Regions from separate parts of the Homo sapiens genome. Here all the other regions are linked to region 1. Evidence: fine-mapped expression QTL. A gene starts in region 1. Each other region holds a variant in brackets. All regions are shown on one strand. Distances are from middle to middle. Region 1 holds the start of CRTAP (cartilage associated protein). Region 2 overlaps GLB1 (galactosidase beta 1). Region 3 overlaps SUSD5 (sushi domain containing 5). Region 4 overlaps CRTAP (cartilage associated protein).

Region 1 (5,149 bases):
GGATTATAGGCATGAGCCATCATGCCAAGCCATAAACATCATTGAGAAAAAATACACCATACAATATCTCCACCAAAAATTACTTTTTCAGTTATATCTTCCATTGAAACAATTAAGTAACATTCACGTTTATTAATAAAATTCTTAGCTTTTTCCTGCCCTATATGAGATCTCAAAATGTTAAGATGGTGGCCGGGCATGGTGGTTCAAATCCCAGACTGTAATCTCAGCATTTTGGGAGGCCAAGGTAGGTGGATCACTTGAGGTTAGAAGTTCGAGACCAGCCTGGCCAACATGGTGAAACCCCATCTCTACTAAAAATACAAAAATTAGCTGGGTGTGGTGGCACATGCCCGTAATCCCAGCTACTCAGGAGGCTGAGATACAAGAATTGCTTGCACCCTGGAGGCAGAGGTTGCAGCGAGCTGAGATCGTGCCACTGCATTCCAGTCTGGGTGACAAAGTGAAACTGTGTCTCAAAAAAAACAGATAGATAGACAGATAGATAGATAGTATTTTACTGACTTTCAACTAAGTGATTGTTACAAGACCTGTAAAGGGTTTTGAAGAGAAGCTATGACCATCCTAACCTTTTGGGGCCACCATGATGAAAGAGAAAACCCATGCCTTTTGGTCACATTGAGTAAAATGTTCTTCCCCTCTTCCCTGTAACACTTGTTCAAATTCATCTGTATATTAAAGAAATCAGAGGTTCTAGTATTCTCTAGGTTTAAAAATAAAATGATTTCCTCTTGATTATGTGACCTAAATTTGGTTCAGAACATATTTGCCAAAAGCTATACAAAAAAAGAATTAGATAAGTCATTTTTAGCTTAAAAAATGATGCTTTGTATGAACCAGCCCTCATTTTCAACATTCTGGAATTTTATTAATCTCATTCCCTGCTTCTGTTTTAAAACTGTTTTTTTTTAATTGCCAGAACAAACATTCACAAAACTGATACTTTAAATAAAACTGTAACTAAGCATAGAAGTATAGAAGTAACCCAGCTTTTCCCCTCTTTGGGGTTTTGTGTTATTTTATTGCTCATATAAATACAATATACACGTGGCTCTGTCTCGGTGGAAATCTGAAAAAACAGATCTTGCAGTCCAGAAACTGAAAACAAAGTTTAAAAACAAAAACCTTCTACCTCAAGAGTCTAGGATATGCCATGAATCTATTTTTGTAGTAATTTTAAAAAACACAATATATTCCTTTTAAAATCTTTCTCAGAGAAAGTAGAAACTGGGCTTTGAGAGGGCTCTTTTAGCCAAACCCTGTGAGGACCCACCAAGCTAGAGCCTCTTTATCTAGTGACAGGGAATCTAACCATTCTTAAAACTTGTGGGTCCTCGGAGTGAGAACCCATAGGATAGAGAACTGCAATTTGTGGCTATTTTTAGCCAGCAATCACAGAGAGAACTTAAGCAGCCATTAAAAGGAGGCAGTGAACTGTGTTAAATTCTAGATGAAAGAGAGAAACAGCGGAGAGGGCCAATCCTGATGACTCACGGTGCACGAGTTCCCCTTTAAGCAGGGATGTGTCCTTGCAAGGAGTCCCTGCCCTTCCCTGGCCTCAATTTCATCCTCTTTAAAAGGAACTAGTCAGCTGGGTGCAATGGCTCACGACTGTAATCCCAGAACTCTGGGAGGCGAGGTGGGAGGATCACTTGAGTCCGGGAGTTCGAGATCAGCCTGGGCAACGTGGCGAAACTCTGTCTCTACAGAAAATACCAAAAAATTAGCTAGGTGTGGTGGCGCGCGCCTATAATCCCAGCTACTCAGGAGGCTGAGGTGGAGGATCACCTGAGCCTGAGGAGGTCAAGGCTGCAGTGAGCCATGATAGCGCCTCTGCACTCCAGCCTGGGCGACTGTGAGACCCTGTCTCAACAAAAAATAAAAATAAAAGGTACTTGTCGGCTCCTCAGGTCTTCTGCTTTATTATCGCAAGTCACCGCTCACTTGAGAAAAAAGGCGACTTTAATGGTATATACAGAAAAGAGGCGTCTGCCCTCAAATAACAGAGAACATTTATCAGGCACTTTGTTGGGTGCCTGGCGCTGTACTGCGTTCTGTGTACGTATTCTCTACCTTAGAGTTACCCTTCAAGAAAGGCATTTTCATCTCTAGTTGAGATGAAGAAGGAGACAGGACTTGGAGGAGACCTTTGGCAGGGCTGGATGGGAGGGAGCCAGGTCTAGAACTGGAGGGGCAACGCGGCCCCGGGCGCAGGGGCGGGGCTAGGGCCTGGAGGCTGGGTCAGGGGCGGGGCCGGGGCCTGGGACGGGGCGAGGCGGACTTGCCTTGAAGTAAGCGAACTGCAGGAACTTGTAGGGCTCGCGGCGCTGGAAGTCCGCCAGCACCTCGCGGCTGGGCTGGGACTGGCGGAAGGCTGGCAGGCCCTGCTTGCAGCGCTTGAGGCAGTGCGCGCGGCGCAGCAGGCCCCCGAAGAGGCGCAGCTCGGGATAGCTGGCGAGGCCGGCGGCGGGCTCGGGCTGCGGCGCGGCGCTGCAGTTGCGGTGGCAGAAGGCCTCGCTGTCGCGCAGCAAGCGGTGCAGCCGCAGGCTGATCTCCAGGTAGCCCACGCTCTCGGCCCAGTGCTCGCCGCTGTACTTGTCCAGCGCGTGCCGGTAGGCCGACTCGAGCGGCATCAGCTCGTCCCGTGGGAAGCTGCGGAAGCTGTAGCGTTCGTATTGGGCGCGCCCGGCGCGCAGCGCGCAGGCCACGCACAGCAGCGCTAGCAGCGCCGCGGCCCCCCGGCGCCCCGGCTCCATCGCGCCCGGCGAAAGGAAGGAAGGAAGGGACGAAGGAAGGGAAAAGGGGAGGGAGAAGGAAAGGAAAGAGGACGGTGCGACGCGGCGGGCCCAGTGCTTTCGGGGCGGGGACGCCAGCCTCCGGCCCGCCCCGTCCGGCCGCCCCTCCCCACCCAGCCGGGGGATCTGGGCGCCAGCTGCCAGCACCTAGAGGGTGCCCGGGAAAGGCGCGCTGCGCACTGGTTCACGCAGGCTGATGCGCATGATGGGACTCTGCCGCTCATTCACTTGGAGACCCGCCTGCAAGGCCGACGCGGCCCTAATAGATTATATACATCGGCCCTACGGTCTATATAATCTACGATCTTTATATTCGTTTGGAGGTTTGTGAAAACGAAGATTCCTGGGCTGTGCCCCCAGAGTTTCTGATTCAGAAAGTCTGGGGTGGAGGTCTGACGATTTGTGTGTTTAACCAGCACCCTGATGAGGCTAATGCTGCGGGCCCAAGGGCCGCACTTTTAATAGCACTGCCCAACCTTAAATTTTAGTGAGAGAAAAAGACAGTGCAAAAATAAAATTAATAAGGATGTCAGCACTTTGTAAACTGTATAGCTAGTCAGGTTGAAGATGTGCACACCTTATGAATCTGCAACACCATTCGGTGGAATATGCTGGAGAAGCTTGCGCGTGTGCATCAAAAAATATGGATGGAATGTTAATGGCAGCACTTTTAAAAAATCTTTAAACTTTTAAATCTTGAAATAATTTACAAGAAAGCTGCAAAAACAGTACAAAAAGTTCCTATATACCCTTCATCAAGATTCACAAGTTGCTAACGTTATACCACATTTCTATCTTTACATTTTTTTCTGACTCATTTGAGATAGGTTGCATGTATCAGGCCCACTGTCCGTTAGTCTTTTTTTTTTCTTTTTTTTTTTCCTTTTTTTTTTTTTGAGACGGAGTCTCGCCCTGTCACCCAGGCTGGAGTGCAGTGGCGCGATCTCGGCTCACTGCAACCTCCGCCTCCCGGGTTCAAGCAATTCTCCCTGCCTTAGCCTCCCGAGTAGCTGGGATCATAGGCACACACCACCATACCTGGCTAATTTTTCTATTTTTTACTAGAGATGAGGTTTTGCCATGTTGGCCAGGCTGTTCTTGAACTCCTGACCTTAGGTGATCTACCTGCCTCTGCCTCCCAAAGTGCTGGGATTACAGGCGTGAGCCACCGTGCCCAACCCCTTAGTCTTTCAGTATGTATGTCCTAAGAATGAAACTACCAGACAATCAAATTTAGGAAATTTAATACTGATAGAAGACTTTAATCATGTTCCATTTCCGGTTATGTCAGCTGTTCCAATTATGTCTTTCATGGCACTTTTTTCTCTTAGGATGCAGTCCATCCGTGATCACTGTTACATCTAGTCTATTTCATATCCTTTAAACTGGTTCCTCGGCTTTTCTTGTCATGCCGTTGTCATTTTTGAAAAATATAGGCCAAAACAGCAATGAGATACCACTACAAAATCCAAAACACTGACAACGTCACATGCTGACAAGGATGTGGAGCAACAGGAACTCTCATTCATTGATAGTGGCAATGCAAAATGGTACATACAGTTTAGAAGACAGTTGGGCCGTTTCTTACAAAACTAGGCATACTCTACTCATACAATCCAGAAATTGCACTTCTTGGTATTTACCCAAATGGGTTAAAACTTATGCACACACCTGCGAATGGATGTTTGTAGCAACTTTATTCACAATTACCATAACTTGGAATCAACCAAGATGTCCTTCAGTGGGTAAGTGGATACATAAACTGTGGTATATACACACAATGGAATTTTATTCCAAGCCAAAAAGAAATGAGCTATCAAGCCATGAAAAGACATGGAGAAGTCTTAAATGCATATTACTGGTTGAAAGAAGCCAAACTGAAAAGGCTACATACTGTGTGATTCCAGCCAAATGACATTCTGGAAAAGGCAAAACTATGGAGACAGTAAAAGGATCAGTGGTTGCTGAGAATTATGGAAAGGGAGGAATGAATGGGTAGAGGACAGGATTATTGGAGCAGTGAAACTATTCTATATGATAGTATAATGGTGGATATATGCTATACATTTGTTAAAATCCATAATATGTACAACACTAAGAGTGAGCCCTAATGTAAACCGGACTTTGGGTGATAACGATGTGTTGATGTAGGTTCATTGATTGTAACAAATGTACCATTCTAGTGCAAGACATTGACAGTGGGGGAGCTTGCGCATGTTGTAGGGTCATGGAGTATATTTGAACTCTGTAGTTTCCGCTCAGTTTCGCTATGAATCTAAAACCACTCTAAAAAATAAAGTCTTTTTTTTGTTTTTTGTTTTGTTTTGAGATGG
Region 2 (5,149 bases), 49 kb after region 1:
CAGGTAGGTTGTTACAGATGTCTTGAGAAGATTTATAAAAGCTTCAGCCTAGGTGCGGTGGCTCACGCCTGTAATCCTGACACTTTGGGAGGCTGAGGCGGGTGGATTACCTGAGGTTGGGAGTTCGAGACCAGGCTGGCCAAAATGGCAAAACCTCGCCCCTACTAAAAATACAAAAAATTAGCTGGGCATGGTGGTGGGCGCCTGTAATCCCAGCTACTCAGGAGGCTGAGGCAGAAGGATTGCTTGAACCCTGGAGGCGGAAGTTGCAGTGAACCGAGATCGTATCAATGCACTATAGCCTGGGTGACAAAGCGTGACTCTGTCTCAAAACAAACAAACAAACAAAAAAGCTTCAACAATTTATATCAAAAGGGGGAGGTATTTTGAAGGCTGGGGTACCTCTGCACAAATACTTTTGAAAGTTTAGTGAAAGTCTGAGTGTTTATCACTGACCAGTGCATAGCAACAAACTAAACCTCTAGGAAATTAGGCTTTGAACTACGTAACCAGATCTTACTGATAAACTGGTAATTCTTTGAATTGGTATTGAACCCTGTTTGCGGTTGACCAACTGACTTCAGTGCTTTCTCTTCCTATTTACTTAGCATATTCCACAGCCAATGATAGCACCTCGCTAATCAAAATGACAAGTCAGGCATGGTGACTCACACTTGTAATCTCAGCACTTTGGGAGGCCAAAGTGGAGGGATTGCTTGAGCCCAGGAGTTTGATACCAGCCTAGGTAACATAGCGAGACCCTATCTCTATAAAAATTAGCCAGGTGTGCTGGCACATGCCTGTAGTCCGGGAGGCTGAGGTGGGAGGATTGCTTGAGCCTGGGAGGTTGAGACTGCAGTGAGCCATGATTGTACCACTGCACTCCATCCTGGGCAACAGAGAGGGACTTTGTCTCAAAAAAAGAAATAAGGTCGGGCGTAGTGGCTCATGCCTGTAATCCCAGCACTTTGGGAGGCCGAGGTGGGTGGATCACCTGAGGTCAGGAGTTCGAGACCAGCCTGACCAACATGAGGAAACCCTGTCTCTACTAAAAAATACAAAATTAGCTGGGTGTGGTGGTGCATGCCTGTAATCCCAGCTACTCGGGAGGCTGAGGCAGGAGAATTGCTTGAAGCTGGGAGGCAGAGGTTGCAGTGAGCCCAGATTGCGCCATTGCATTCCTGCCTGGGCAACAAGAGCGAAACTCTGTCTCAAAAAAAAAAAAAAAAAGAAATAAAAACAAAATGACAGTTTCTGGGATGGTGTCATTGGATTGCTTGGTAGCTGCAATGCCTTCTATATTCTGGCCACTTTTATAGAGCAATGTGTAAATGATAGTTTTTTTCTTTGTCTTACTCCAGTACCTTCATGTTTTGCACGCTTAGCATATTATTGGTGTTTTCACTGTGGTAACTCATTTAATCTTTATGCCAACTTTATGTGGCATGTACATTTATTATTCCTATTTGACAATATAAATATAGAATTTATTAGAACTTCATTTTATACGGAAAAAAAGCCTTCCTGTGACTGAGAAGAGGATACACTGTTCAGTCACTCTTTTCTTCATTCAGCAAACATTGCTTGGATATGTTCTATGCTCCAGGCTTTGTGTCCTGTGGCAAGGATGGTCTTAGTCTGTTTTCTGTTGCTTGTAACAGAATACCTGAAACTGAGTAATTTATAAAGAAAAGCATTTATTTCCTACAGTTATGGAGGCCAAGAAGTTCAAGGTGGAGGGGCTATATCTGGTGAGGGCCTTCTTGCTGGTGGGGACTCTGCAGAGTCCTGAGGGGGCACAGGGCATCACATGGTGAGGGGGCTGAGTGTCCTAGCTCAGATCTCTCTCCCTCTTCTTATAAAGCCACCAGTCCCATTCCCATGATGACCCATGAATCCATTAACCTATTAATCTATTAATCCATGAGTGGATTGATCTACTTATGAGGGCTGAGCCCTCATGACTCAACACCTCTTAAAGGCCCCACCTCTCAATACTACCACATTGGGGATTCGATTTCAACATGAGTTTCAGAGGGACAAACATTCCAACCATAGCAGATGGATACAGGCACACTGGTCCTCGTCCCCTGAGGAGCTCAGCTGAGGAGACAACTACATGCAGGACAACTTTTATGAGACTTTTACTTCAGAAGGTACTTGTCGAGTCCTGTATATCCTGATCTCTGCTGCCAGCCCTGGTGTAATAAGGCTGCACTGGTGTCTCTTTGTACTAAATCATAATTTTTTTTTTTTTTTTTTTTGAGACAGAGTTTCACTCTTGTTGCCCAGGCTGGAGTGCAATGGTGCGATCTTGGCTCACCGCAACCTCCGCCCCCCCGGGTTCAAGCAATTCTCCTGCCTCAGCCTCCCAAGTAGCTGGGATTACAGGCATGCGCCACCAAGCCTGGCTAATTTTGCATTTTTAGTAGAGATGGGGTTTCTCCATGTTGGTCAGGCTGGTCTCGAACTCCCGACATCTGGTGATCTGCCTGCCTCAGCCTCCCAAAGTGCTGGGATTACAGGCGTGAGCCACCGCACCCAGCCAGAAAACTCAGAATGTTTTTAAAAAGTTTACGAATTTGTGTTGGGCCACATTCAAAGCCATCCTGGGCTGCATGTGGCTTACAGGCTGGGGTTGGACAAGCTTGTGTTAAACTTTTC[T/C]TGTTTTCCAGATTACCTGGCAGCTGTGGACAAGTGGTTGGGAGTCCTTCTGCCCAAGATGAAGCCTCTCCTCTATCAGAATGGAGGGCCAGTTATAACAGTGCAGGTAACCCTGGAGTTGAGCATGGATGGATTGGGGGAGGGGTTCCCATCCATCTACATTACATAAATGATAGAAGTGATGCAGACATGAGCCTCATAGGTCTGTTTCTTTAAGAGGTAATGCCACAGATAGTGCTTTTAGTTCAATTGCATTTGGGAAGGCATTGCCATTTTTGAATGCCTGCTATGTGGCAGGCTTTGTGCTGGGTGCCTTGTAAATGCTATTCAATTCTTCCAACCACCTTCTTTTTTCAGTGAGGAAGTTTGAAAAGGTTAAGTGACTTGGCTAAGGTCACCCAGCCAGCAGGTGGCAGAATTAGGATAGCACCCTAATTCTGTGGATCCCAGAGTTTGTCTCTCTGTTTCTCCTGCAATATTGTTTTCTGGCAGCAGGCATGCAGCGTGGACTGAAACACTTTGGTATCGGCACTGCCTTGACAGTCAGATAACCCTGGAATGGAAAAGGATATGGTCAATTGGGGCTGGCTGTTATGTTTCCTCTCTTACTTCCTGCCCCATTCTCCTTCTTCTATGTGTTCTTGGCTCTGCAAGGACTAATATACTGTGGGGTACATTGAACTTTAACAGTTTTTGGTGTTGGTAAAATTACTTAGGTGAAACATAAAACCATGTTCATTGGACATTGACCAAGGATGCCATGGATGCTCTTTTTTTTTTTTTTTTTTTTTTGAGAGAGAGTCTCATTCCGTTGCCCAGGCTGGAGTGCAGTGGGGCAATCTCGGCTTACTGCAACCTCTGCCTTCTGAGTTCAGGCAATTCTCCCACCTCAGCCTCCCATGTAGCTGGGATTACAGGCGCATGCCACCATGCCTGGCTAATTTTTGTATTTTTAGTAGAGACGGGGTTTCGCCATGTTGGCCAGGCTGGTCTCAAACTCCTGACCTCAGGTGATCTGCCCGCCTTGGCCTTCCAAAGTGCTGGGATTACAGGCGTGAGCCACCGTGCCCGGCTATGACCAAGGATGCTCTTATGGAAAAGAGTAAAGGTTTTTTGTTTTTTTTTTTAGGAGACAGAGTCTCGCTCTGTCGCCCAGGCTGGAATGCAGTGGCACAATCTCGGCTCACTGCAACCTCTGCCTCCCAGGTTCAGGCGACCCTCCTGTGTCAGCCTCCCAAGTAGCTGGCATTACAGGCGTGCACCACGATGCCTGGCTATGTTTTTGTATTTTTAGTAGAGACAGGGTTTCACCATGTTGACCAGGCTGGTCTCAAACTCCTGACCTCAGGTGATTCACCCACCTCAGCCTCCCAAAGTGCTGGGATTACAGGCGTGAGCCACCGTGCCCAGCTATGACCAGGGATGCTTTTATGGAAAAGAGTAAAGTTATGTAAAAGTGGCTGCATCCTGGACATCCCAGGGATGCAAAGTGGCACTCCCTAGGGGAGTGTGGGCCAGGCTTCCTTCTTATGAACAGTACTATGGGCAGCTTGTGGGGATGGATCATAGTAGGGTGGGAGCATGGGCACTGCTTTGCCTTTCAGGTGTCGGTGGACAGAGGTGCTGAGAGGGCTGCACTGGCCAGGGTGTCCGTTCTGAGGCTTTGTGGTGGGAGGAGATGTCTTCTTGAGAGAGGCCAGGTTGCTGCTCACAGAGGGATGTGTGAGTCACCCCACGTGCCCCTAGTTTTTACCATCTTGTGTCTGTACTGGTTAAGCTAATAGGAACCACATTTTCCTACATGAAGATATCAAGTCTGAAACTTGGGTGCGTCTTTGCTCTGCATGGCTGTGTCTTCTTCCTTTCTTCTGGCCTCAGGTGCAAACCCTCTTTTGATGCCCTCTTTTTTTCAGTCTCTGCCTCTCCTTGAATCACTTTCAATTTCTGCTCACAACTTTTCTGCCCCTTTTGGTTTTGGAAATGCCACAAAAAGTATAATCAAGTATTAATTCTGCAAAGGAGAATGAAGTTGACTGTGTGGAGATATTTCTTCTTGTGTCCATCCCTAGCAACCTCAGATGACTTTAACTTGACCCTGGGTCCTGCCAGGTGACTCTGTCCCCCTCCTCCTCCTCCTCTCCCCTTCCCATCTCCACATGCTTGAATCCCACTAATCATTTTTGCCCCTTGTTTACAAAATAAACAAGTATAGACATAAGAAAGCAGAAAAAACATAATTGTTACTCAAACCTCAGGAGCCATAGCAAAGCTCTTCACATTTTGGGAGTTTCCTTGAATATTTTTTATGCCTTTTTTTTCTGCTTTCTTACAGAGTAAGTTCATTCTGTGTGACCTATTTTCTGTGTGGCTTTTTTTGCTTCATTCTTTGTCATGAGCACTTTTTCATATCGTTCAAAATTCTTTCATCATCTTTCATGGTTGTCCTACTTACCTTCTGACGCACAGTTCCTATACGTGTTCCTTC
Region 3 (5,149 bases), 39 kb before region 1:
AATTTTAGTAGAGATGCCCAGTTTTCCATCGTGGTTGTTCCAGTTCACACTCCCACTAACAGTGCTGTATATCCTAGTTAACATTTGATATTGTCGGTCTGTTTAATTTTAGCCATTCTGGTGCTATGCAGTGGTATCTCATTATGACTATAATTAACATTTCTCTCTTACTAGTGAGGTTGAGCATCTTTCCACATGTTTAATGACTAATCTGATATCTTTCTGGTGATGTCCCAAGTCAACTATCTTGCCAATTTTTCTATGGTTTGTCTGTCTACTTAGTATAGATTTGTGGGAGTCCTTTTTAAATTCTGGATACAAGCCCTTTGGAGGTCATATGTGTTGCAGATAGCTTCTCTAACTCTGCCTTGCATTTTAACTCTCTTTGTGGTAGCTTTTAATGAACAGAGGATCTTCATTTTAATGTAATCCAGTTATCTGTCCTTGTGCCAATACCACAGCCTTAAAAGGTAATGCAGTTTTATAGTAAATCTTGAAATGTTTTGCATATGTCTTCCGGCTTTTTCTTTTTCAATATCGCCTTGTCTATTCTTACATTGCATTTCCATAAACTTCCATCCATTGCATTTCCATAAACTTTAACATTCAGTTAATGTCTGAGATTTTTATTGGAATTGTATTAGATCTGTATAGATCGATTTGGACAGAATTGCCAACTTAATGATCTTGAGCCTTCTACTACATGATCATGGTCTATTCCTCCATTCATTTAAGTCTTCTTTAATTTTGCTTAGCAATGTCTTATATCATTCCATGTAGAAGTCTTGAACATCTTTTGTTAGATTTATTCCTATGTGTTTGGTTTTTTTAATGTTATTGTAAATAGCATCCTTTTAAATTTTAATTTTCTGTTTATTGACAATATTTAGAAATACAATTGATGTTTATATTTACTGTAGACCTAGTATCCCTAATAAACTCACATGTTTTTTGTTGTTGTTGTTTTTGAGTTGTTGTTTTTGTTGTTGTTGTTTTTGAGTCTCACTCTGTCACCCAGGCTGGAGTGCAGTGGTACGATGTTGGCTCACTGCAACGTCCGCCTTCCGGGTTCAAGCGATTCTCATGTCTCATCCTCCTGAGTAGCTGGGATTACAGGCATATGCCACCATGCCTGGCTATTTTTTTGTATTTTATTAGAGATGGGCATTCGCCATGTTGGCCAGGCTGGTCTCGAACTCCTGGCTTCAAGTGATCCACCTGCCTAGGCCTCCCAAAGTGCTGGGATTACAAGTGTGAGCCACCATGCCCGGCCTAAGCTCAGATGTTAAATTTTAGTTACTTGTAATATTCATATGTAGATTATTTGGGTTTATCTATGATACACAGTCATATCATCTGTGAATAATAACAGTATTATTTATTCTGTCCCAGCCTTTATGCTTTTAATTTCCTTTTCTTATGTTCTATACTGGCTCTGTGCCTTTGGAGCTAATGAGGTTTTTTCCCTCTTTTCTTCCAGATGAGGCTGAGGCACACATTGACTATGAAGATAACTTCCCTGATGACAGATCTGTGTCATTCAGAGAGCTCATGGAGGATTCCCGGACAGAGGCAGATGAGGACAGGGGTCAGGGAGACTCCTCTGAGGAGGCTCCAAAACAGGACCGTCTGGTCTCCATTTCTGTGGGGAGAGAAAACATAGCCCGGGATAAAGTCTTTGTGCCAACCACAGGCTTGCCTGGTGCTGGGAGCAGTGTCCCCGCAGATTCACCAGGATCACGGCTGCTCCAGAAGCACTTGTTCTGGTTTCCTGCTGAGGCTTTCCACAAGCCTGGGTTGGAAAAGGAGGTGGATGATGACACCAAAAAGCAGTTTTCTGCTGGAGACAACCACAGTGGTGTAAAATTGGTCCCAGGTGAACCTGAAACCAAGGTGATCTACGGCAACACTGATGGTCCCTCGGGGCCATTTGTGGGCAAGAATGACAGCAAGGCAGGAGATCCAGTGGTGAGCAGCAGTGATGAGTCCTGGTTAGATGGCTACCCTGTGACAGAGGGGGCTTGGAGGAAGACAGAGGCAGAAGAGGAAGAAGATGGGGACAGAGGGGATGGGTCAGTAGGGCTGGATGAAAACGTCCTAGTTACTCCTGATCAGCCCATTCTTGTGGAAGTTAAGAAGCCCAAGAGTAGCACCCTCACACCAAGCGAGGGCATGACCCATAGTTCAGTTCTTCCATCTCAAATGCTAGATGTGGAAGCTTTGGCGCTCAGACCCGTGAATGCTTCCGAGACTGAGGGCATTGGGGATGGTGACTTGACGAAGTACCAGTCAACTCTACCCTGGAGATTCATCACAGAGGAATCTCCCATGGCCACCCTGTCCTATGAGCTCACCAGCTCCACCCTGGAGATATTAACAGTGAACACTGTCAAGCAGACACCTAACCACATCCCCTCAACGATCATGGCAACCACCCAGCCTCCAGTAGAAACCACTGTTCCTGAGATCCAGGATAGCTTCCCATACCTGCTGTCTGAAGACTTCTTTGGACAGGAAGGCCCCGGGCCAGGTGCAAGTGAGGAGCTTCATCCCACCTTGGAGTCGTGTGTGGGGGACGGATGTCCTGGCCTCAGCAGAGGCCCTGTGATCGCCACCATTGTCACCGTCCTGTGCCTACTGCTGCTCCTGGCAGGTGTGGGGATGGTGTGGGGCTACCGCAAGTGCCAGCACAAGAGCTCTGTGTACAAGCTGAATGTTGGCCAGCGGCAGGCTCGGCACTACCACCAGCAGATCGAGATGGAGAAGGTCTAGGCACCTTTGGAGTGGGTTCTCCCAAAGCCACTTGGGAGGAAAATAACTGTGACACATCACACGATAATTCACTAGAGCATGACGCAGGTGGACTG[A/G]GGCTCATCATTTTTTCCTCAGCCCTTTGTTTTATAGGCTGAGAAGTGTCTCTGGAGCACCTGGGAGGGCAGGGAGGCTTTGGTGACATCATCACTCATGTCAATGTCTCCTCCACCATCTGCCCTGGAATTGACTACACTAATCCCAGACCTGTGCTTGGGCCCTGTTTCCAGTGTGAGGTCAAAAATCGCCTCTTCCTTCATCACAGTATTATCTTTTTTTTTTTGAGACAGAGTCTCATGCTGTTGCCCAGGCTGGAGTGCAGTGTCCCGATCTGAGCTCACTGCAACCTCTGCCTCCCAAGTTCAAGCAATTCTCCTGCCTCAGCCTCCCAAGTAGGTGGGATTACAGGCATGCACCACCATGCCCAGCTAATTTTTTTATATTTTTAGTAGAGATGGAGTTTCACCATGTTGGCCAGGCTGGTCAAGAACTCCTGACCTCAAGTGATCTGCCCTCCTTAGCCTCCCAAAGTGCTAGGATTCCAGGTGTGAGCCACATCACAGTATTACCTTTTTGAAGAAAGAAAATCACCAGCTTCATGCCCTGAAATTTTATAAATAGTCATGATAAACCAAGTGTATGAGAGCAGTATTATCTAGGACATGGATATTGAATTATTGGGAGAGGAATATGGAAGAATAATGGGTTGTTTCCTTTTAATGTTGTGATGTTGCTGAGGGCAGATGAACCAAGAGCCAGGACACAGTCTAGAAGCTTTGAGGTTTCTTTTTTCATTGTTTCTTGAAATTAGAATTTAAGACTGACATTTTGTTGGGGGAGTTGAGGAGTGAAGAAACACACATCCCCCTCTGTTCCCTCCATTCTGTGGGACAGTCTGTCATTTATTTTATTTTATTTTCAATATTTCATGGTTAAGGATTTGCCATTATTTTTTAAAAACAAAGTTAGCTTTGTACCAGTAAGTACCATTTCCTCTCAGAAGCAGTGGCCTAGTTGTCCTTGACCAGTCTGTGCCTAGGAATGTCTTGGAATTTTTGCCAGGACTAACAAAACTCAGTCCTTGGTTTCCTCTCTCAGGATTAACCATTTCTCTGAACTCCAGTAAGAGAGAATGACACGGGAGAAAAAAAAAAGAAATGTTTTCAGAGGGCCGAACACCAGGTTATCAAGTATGGGCACATACTTGATGGAGAAGCAGAAGAATCTGTGAAAGAATATGAAATGATCTGTGCTGATCTGTTCTCTAGTGTGGAAACTGGGAGCTCTGTGGAAACAGAATCCATCCTGTCTGTTGGGTAACCCATTTCGTAGCATCTAAATCATCTTAGGGTGGCTCAGCGAGGATGGTTTATGGCAGTGGTTCTCAAAGTGTGGTCCTCAGACCAGTAGCATCAGCGTCACCTGGGAATTTGTTGGAGATGCAAATTCTCTAGTCCCACCCTGGACTCAGGAAACAGGAACCCTGGGAGTAGGGCCCAGTTCTGTTTTTAACAAGCCCTCCAGGTGATTTTGATATGCACTCAAGTTTGAGAGCCTGTTGGTTTATAATAATCTCAAATGTGAACTTCGAGGCCAGCTGAAGCCCTAAAGGCACAGATGAGTATGTGGTGTGTGTTGTGTGGAAGTCAGGCATGGCTGTGTGCAGCTGAGGTGGCATTTGAAGCTGCCTAAATGCCACCTGCAATAGTCTCCTGTATGTTGGCACAGAAATGAAACATGTTATATTTTTCTAATATGAATCACCTTCTTAGAAATAGTTATCAGTGGTAAAAAGTGATGAATGCAACACATTTATTTTGAGACACCATAGCAGTCTAAGTGTTTTTGTGTGGTAGAGGGAAATCCTGATCTTTTTTATGATTGAAAAATTGTTGGTGGTGTTTTACCTAAGGAAAAAAAACATTCGCAACATGTTTTCTACCCTGCCACCTCTTTTCAGCAAGCTTTGGAAAAGTAATAGGCGAAGTAGCTGTAAAGAGAGGCAGCATAATCAAAGATCTTATTCCCCATAGTTGGGTAAAATAAAGCCTGAAGGTACCAACTAGAATACCTGTGCATCAGACGAAGTCAAGAACAATAGGAATAAAATGCTTTCTGCATGTAGCCAAAGCAAAACATAATAGAATAAAAGCCAGAGACTGTATATATTTATAAATTAGATCCTAATCTACTGCAAGATAACTTTTCTATTTTTAACTATATAAAATAACCTCTGTCTCAGCATTGGGACTGTGTTAGCAACTATTATTGTGGAATAACCCAGAACATTGGATTTATACCAACAAATAGGCAATATTAATACAGTGTATTAATAAAT
Region 4 (5,149 bases), 30 kb before region 1:
GGGCTGGACAGATGCCCCACCACGATGGGCGGCCTCCCCACCAGCCTGCAGAACCAAACAGCAACCACTGAGCTCCATGCTGATGGGTCAAAGGACAAGCAAGGCATCTTAGAGCAGGCCTGGAAGCTCCCACAAAGCTTACAAATGTGTTTGTTTTTTCGAAGACGGGCCAGACTTGAGGCTGAACCAATGGGGTCTCCATCCAGGAATCTTCTAGGCTCTTCCAAGAAGCACACTCAGGGAGGTGTTGGGTTGAGGTCATTGAGTGCAGCCTGCACACCAGGGTTTCATGGTAGGTTTGGAAGACCCAGCCCAGTTTTTGTTTTTTTTTTTTAAGGTTTGGTTTCCTTTGAAATAGAAATTTTGGTAACTCAGCTCTACAGCCTTCAATCAAAGCAAAGTACTGACAATATTGACTGTACTATCACCCGGGTCCTCAGGGGACATCACTAGGGTAGGGGTGGAGGTGCTTTTCAATCCCCAGTGAAAGGAGGCCAACTTCAGAGAGTGAACGAGGACCCCCCAGCATGCCAAGTCAACCCATACGTGGAACAACAACATGTACAGAGAGCTCACCCCAGGCTCACAAGACAAGGACCCAACAGTACCTCTGCAGGGCACAGAGGTGGAGTGAGTCACAACACCCAACCCTGCCTGGGTCCCTGTGGACGTCGGCTTTCATTTTCTCACACAGCTGGGAAGGACACTGCAGCCTGAGGCTATAAGGGGAGTTCACAGCTGCTGGGCACACTATTTACAGACTCAGGAATCCCGGAGCAGGGCGTCCACTCGCTGGGTCCCCCACTACTTTCTAGTCCTGTCTCATCACCCTCTTCCCCACTGAGTTCAAAAGGAAGTTTCTCTGGTGGAGTAAAGGTTGGGGTGAGGAAAGAAAGGAGAACCCGGCATCCCGTGGGTGAAGGCCATCTCCCCCAGCAGGAAGCCACGTAAGATCTGACGCATCGCTGGGATTGGGGGCTGCTGTGGACACGGTGCATCCACCAGTAATAACACTGACTCCTCGGGCCAAACACCCCCGCTGGGAGTACAGATTTTGTGGACGTGGGCAACTTCAGCCCAAGACAGAAGTGGTAGGGGACTGTCCTGGGTGGGTACCCTCAAAGGAGAACCTGATGCAGGGATTCTTGTGCAGGTGAGTGAGGACGTGGTGTCAGAAGGGATGAGGAAAGCAGGATAGAGCTGAAGGAGAAACAGAAGGATGTGCCCGAGTTCCCCGAGGTTGGTAGAGTGTTCTGGGGGATAAGGGAAGCCCAGAAAAAGCACAACGTGTGAGTGTTCCACCCCAATTAACCACCATTACACAAAAACCCAAACACTCTATCCTTTTATTCCTTCCCAGGCTATTGCAGGAAAAGTCTTGTTTCCCAAACGCTGTGCCTTTCTCCTCTTGCCTTCAACCCTGGAGGGGCCCAACTACACAAGTGGCTTATTTGGAGAAGGGAATGAGGTTGAATAAAGAAAGCTCAGCTTCCAGAACACCACACTCTCTTGGTTTTCTCTGACCTTAAGGTAACTCCTTCTCAGTCCTTTGGCTGATTTCCCATTTCCCAGAGAGCCCAAGGGCTCCATCCATGGCTCTTTTCTGTTGCTTCTCAGTAATACTCAGAGACAATCTCAGTGGCCCCTCCAGCTGCATGGCTTTAAATGCCACTGACATGCTGATGGTTCAGTAGGGGGCGCTGTGGTGCCCTGCCAGATCCCTTCACACAGCCAGTGCCCAGGACCCCCACCCCCAACACACTACCATGCATGGTAGCTGCCAGATGCCTACAGCCTCTTTTCCAGAGACTTGCCCTCAACTGAAGTCACTTGCCTTCAAATGTACCCACACTCCCAGAGAACTTCTCACAGCCAATAAATGACTGATAAAGGCTTTCACAGGTTCCTTCTGAGAGCACCCCCAACAATAAACCAAGTGCATTCAGATCCCTGTCTCGAGCTCTGCTGCAGACCTGACCTGAGAGAACTCTCCACTTTGATTTGCAGCCAGAACCTCCCATTCCAACCACAGACAGCCTGCTTTGCACCAAATTCCATACTTACCCAGCCCATCCTTCCCTATTTCAGTAACTGGTAACTCCATCTTTCCTGCTATTCAGGCCAAAAACCTTAATGTCATCATTAACTCTTCCTTCTCTTACACTCCACATTCAAACTCTCAGCAAATCCTATTGGCTCTTTTCAAAATAAATCTAGATATTTGACCACTGCTGTTGCTGTGGCCCAGGCCCAAGCCTGGAACCTTGCAGTAGCTTCCTAACAGGTCTTCCCTCTTCCTTCTGCCCTTGTCCACTAAAGTTTTTCACAATATGGCAGCTAGAATGACCCTTGCAAAATATAAATCAATCAAGGCACTCCTCTGTTCAAACCCTCCAGTGGTTCCCATCTCACTTAGCAGAAGCCAAGGCCCTCCACCACCTGTCCTC[C/T]CCAGCCGCCTCTCCTTCCATTCTACCCCTGCCCACGACTCTGCTTGGTCTCCCTGCTCTTTCCTGACCACGTAGAGCAAGTTCTCACTTTGGGGCAGTGCACATCCTGTTCCTCTGCCTGGAATGCCTTGTCCAGGATCCACTTCCCTAACGTCTCTGCTCAACGTCACATTCCCAGTGAGGCCCCATTTAAAACTGCAGCCTCATCTCCAGGATTTCTTACTCCCTCCCCTGCTTTATTTTTCTCCACAGCAATTATCACTACATGATACCTTGTATATATTTATTCCTATGTATTGGCTATCTCTTTCTCCCTGTAGAATGTAAGCTCCATGAGCACAGGGAACTTTCCCTGTTATTCTGTGAAGTATCTCTAGTTCCCAGGTCAATGCCTAGCACACAGTAGGTACTCAATAAATATTTACTGAAAGAATGAATGAAACTAGACAGCTCTGGCTTTCTTCCTTTTCCAACTCGGAGACTTATAACTAAGCATTGTCCTCAAATGGGATCGGCCAACCGTTGTAATTTTGGAGATGCAAAGTGGGGCAAAAGCCACATTTCTGCACTCTACACTCTCTACTCAACTTGTTTTTCAGTGGGTGCTAGAATTGGTACAAGTCAGACCAAGTGAAGACCATTGTGAGGCTGGAGAAATTTAGCCTATGTCTTCCACCATCTTTCCCGGATGGGGAGAAAGGAGACTAAAATCTGGAAAAGCAAATAAGCCAAAGGAGGTTTTCACAATTATCATCTTCTAGGAATGTTTTTCTTATTTAAAAAATAATACTGATTTTCTGGGAAAAACAAAAAAACAAGCCAGAGAAGACTGCCCTTCAAACCAAAATGGTAAGAAAGGCAGCTATGAACATGGGGAAGACAAGTGTGAACATGAGGAAGACAGGGATGAAGGTGTGAAAACAGATGTGAGGATAAGAAGACAGGTGTAAAGGTGAGAAAGAGGCCGGGCATGGTGGCTCACGCCTGTAATCCCAGCACTGTGGGAGGCCAAGGCAGATGGATCATCTGAAGTCAAGAGTTCGAGACCAGCCTGGCCAACATGGCAAAACCCCGTCTCTACTAAAAATACAAAATTAGCCGGGCGTGGTGGCACATGCCTGTAATCCCAGGTACTCGGGAGGCTGATGCAGCAGAATTGCTTGAACCCAAGAGGCGGAGGTTGCAGTGAGCTGAGAACGTGCCATTGCACTCCAGCCTGGGCAAGAGAGCGAGACTCCATCTCAAAAAAAAGGTGAGAAAGATAGGTGTGAACATGAGGTGGCAGGTGTGAAGATAGGAAAGGCAGGCTCACCCCTGATGACATGCAGTTAGAGAGACGGGGGCTTCCCTTTCACTTTGGAGAGTAAAGAGAAGGCTCTGAGGTATCAACAGCCTGGGCTGTTGGGAAAAGGACAAAGAATCTGTGTTTCCTGAACGCCAAGAGGAAGTCTCTTTGGTTGCTGTGGGCTAGCTGGTCTCCTCCAGTTCCAAGAGGTCATCCACATATTCCACAACTTCTCCCTGTAAGAGACAACAGGACAACTTTATTAAATGGGCTATTGGACTTTTAAAAGTACTGATGAGCAGAAACAGTATCCCGAGAGGCCATCACCACTGTCTGCTTTGGCTGAAACAGGTTTTTTCTGCTGGTCTGGGGCCCAGAGGACCTGATTTCTCCCTGTGGAGGGGACCTCGGCTTCCACTCCATTTGAACTTGGTATCAAGTGCTCTGCGAGATCCGCCAACATGCTGTGTGAGGCGGACAGCCCAGCCTGTGAACAGCTCTACTAAGTGGCCCTCCTGTGTGCATCTCTGCCTACTCCCCTTCCTCCCCTCTCATGTGTGCAGGTCTCCCACAGGAACATTTTCTATCTGTTCCCTTTCTGCCTTGACCACCAGAACCCAAACTTCTCAAGGACCAGGGGACTGGGTTGATTTTTCTTCCCCAGAGTCCAGCACACAGAAGGTGCTCAATACATGTGTTGAAGGATGAATGATTGAGTGCTTGCATACATACTGCTGGTGTGACTGAAGCAATCACTCCTCTTACAGGAGAGACACACAGGGATAGTGGGATCCACTTGCCCAGTGTCGGTACCAGGAGCTCACCTGCTCCCTCCTTCTGCAATCAGCCTTATACTTCAACTTGAAGCAGCCCAGCACCCTTCCCAATTTCTTTCTCCACATTGACTTCTCTTCTATAACCCTCCTGGACCACCAGCTGATGACACCCATTCTCTTTTCTGCAGAGAATGAGTGAATGACCAAGGCTGAGGCCCCTTCCATAAGAGTCAACACAGACTGGCCCCACCAACCCTGCTAAAACTCGACCTCCTTCACTGAGCTCACCATCCCAGGCCAAGAGCCTGTTGGCTCCTTTTGATGTTTTAACACAGAGAAATTTATAAAAATCTTGCAGCATTTGGGAATAACTGGAAAACCTATCAAGTACATGAGACACAAATGGGGGGTCTTAGTATTATCATCAAATACTTCTACTATGTCATGCCTGAGATTAGAAACTCAAACTGTAGACACTACAGCTTGGAAAAATTGTTTTTCAGTTGCTTTCTAGACCCCAAAAGGAAAACACAGCATAGTAGAGGGATTATGTGTATAGCTATGACTTCTGCTTAGGGAGTTACTATATCCTGCTGTGTGTCTGTTGTGACTTGCGGGATGATGGTATTGTTTGCTTTTAG

What was found. PIP is the estimated chance that this variant, and not a neighbour inherited with it, causes the effect.
Region 2: its variant is fine-mapped to the expression of CRTAP in whole blood (TOPMed, PIP 0.95).
Region 3: its variant is fine-mapped to the expression of CRTAP in whole blood (TOPMed, PIP above 0.99). The same link has a PIP of 0.9 or more in blood mononuclear cells, monocytes and neutrophils.
Region 4: its variant is fine-mapped to the expression of CRTAP in esophagus muscle (GTEx, PIP 0.99). The same link has a PIP of 0.9 or more in transverse colon.

What each region holds. Positions count from the first base shown.
Region 1 is chr3:33,111,706-33,116,854 of GRCh38, reverse strand. CRTAP (cartilage associated protein) reads right to left here and starts at 2,841. Exons shown (of 7, transcript NM_006371.5): 1 at 2,307-2,841. The coding sequence starts at 2,777. RefSeq lists silencers at 407-555, 2,082-2,271, 2,712-3,011 and enhancers at 1,139-2,130, 5,011-5,149.
Region 2 is chr3:33,063,084-33,068,232 of GRCh38, reverse strand. GLB1 (galactosidase beta 1) reads left to right here. Exons shown (of 16, transcript NM_000404.4): 4 at 1-3; 5 at 2,676-2,770. Among named protein-coding and RNA genes, the nearest start is that of GLB1, 31 kb to the left of the region's middle. The variant T/C (reference allele first, on the strand shown) is at 2,665.
Region 3 is chr3:33,150,365-33,155,513 of GRCh38, reverse strand. It overlaps SUSD5 (sushi domain containing 5), which reads left to right. Exons shown (of 5, transcript NM_015551.2): 5 at 1,481-5,149. The coding sequence ends at 2,772. Among named protein-coding and RNA genes, the nearest start is that of CRTAP, 39 kb to the right of the region's middle. RefSeq lists an enhancer at 1,500-2,699. The variant A/G (reference allele first, on the strand shown) is at 2,868.
Region 4 is chr3:33,141,214-33,146,362 of GRCh38, reverse strand. CRTAP (cartilage associated protein) reads right to left here. Exons shown (of 7, transcript NM_006371.5): 7 at 1-3,968. The coding sequence ends at 3,915. Among named protein-coding and RNA genes, the nearest start is that of CRTAP, 30 kb to the right of the region's middle. The variant C/T (reference allele first, on the strand shown) is at 2,448.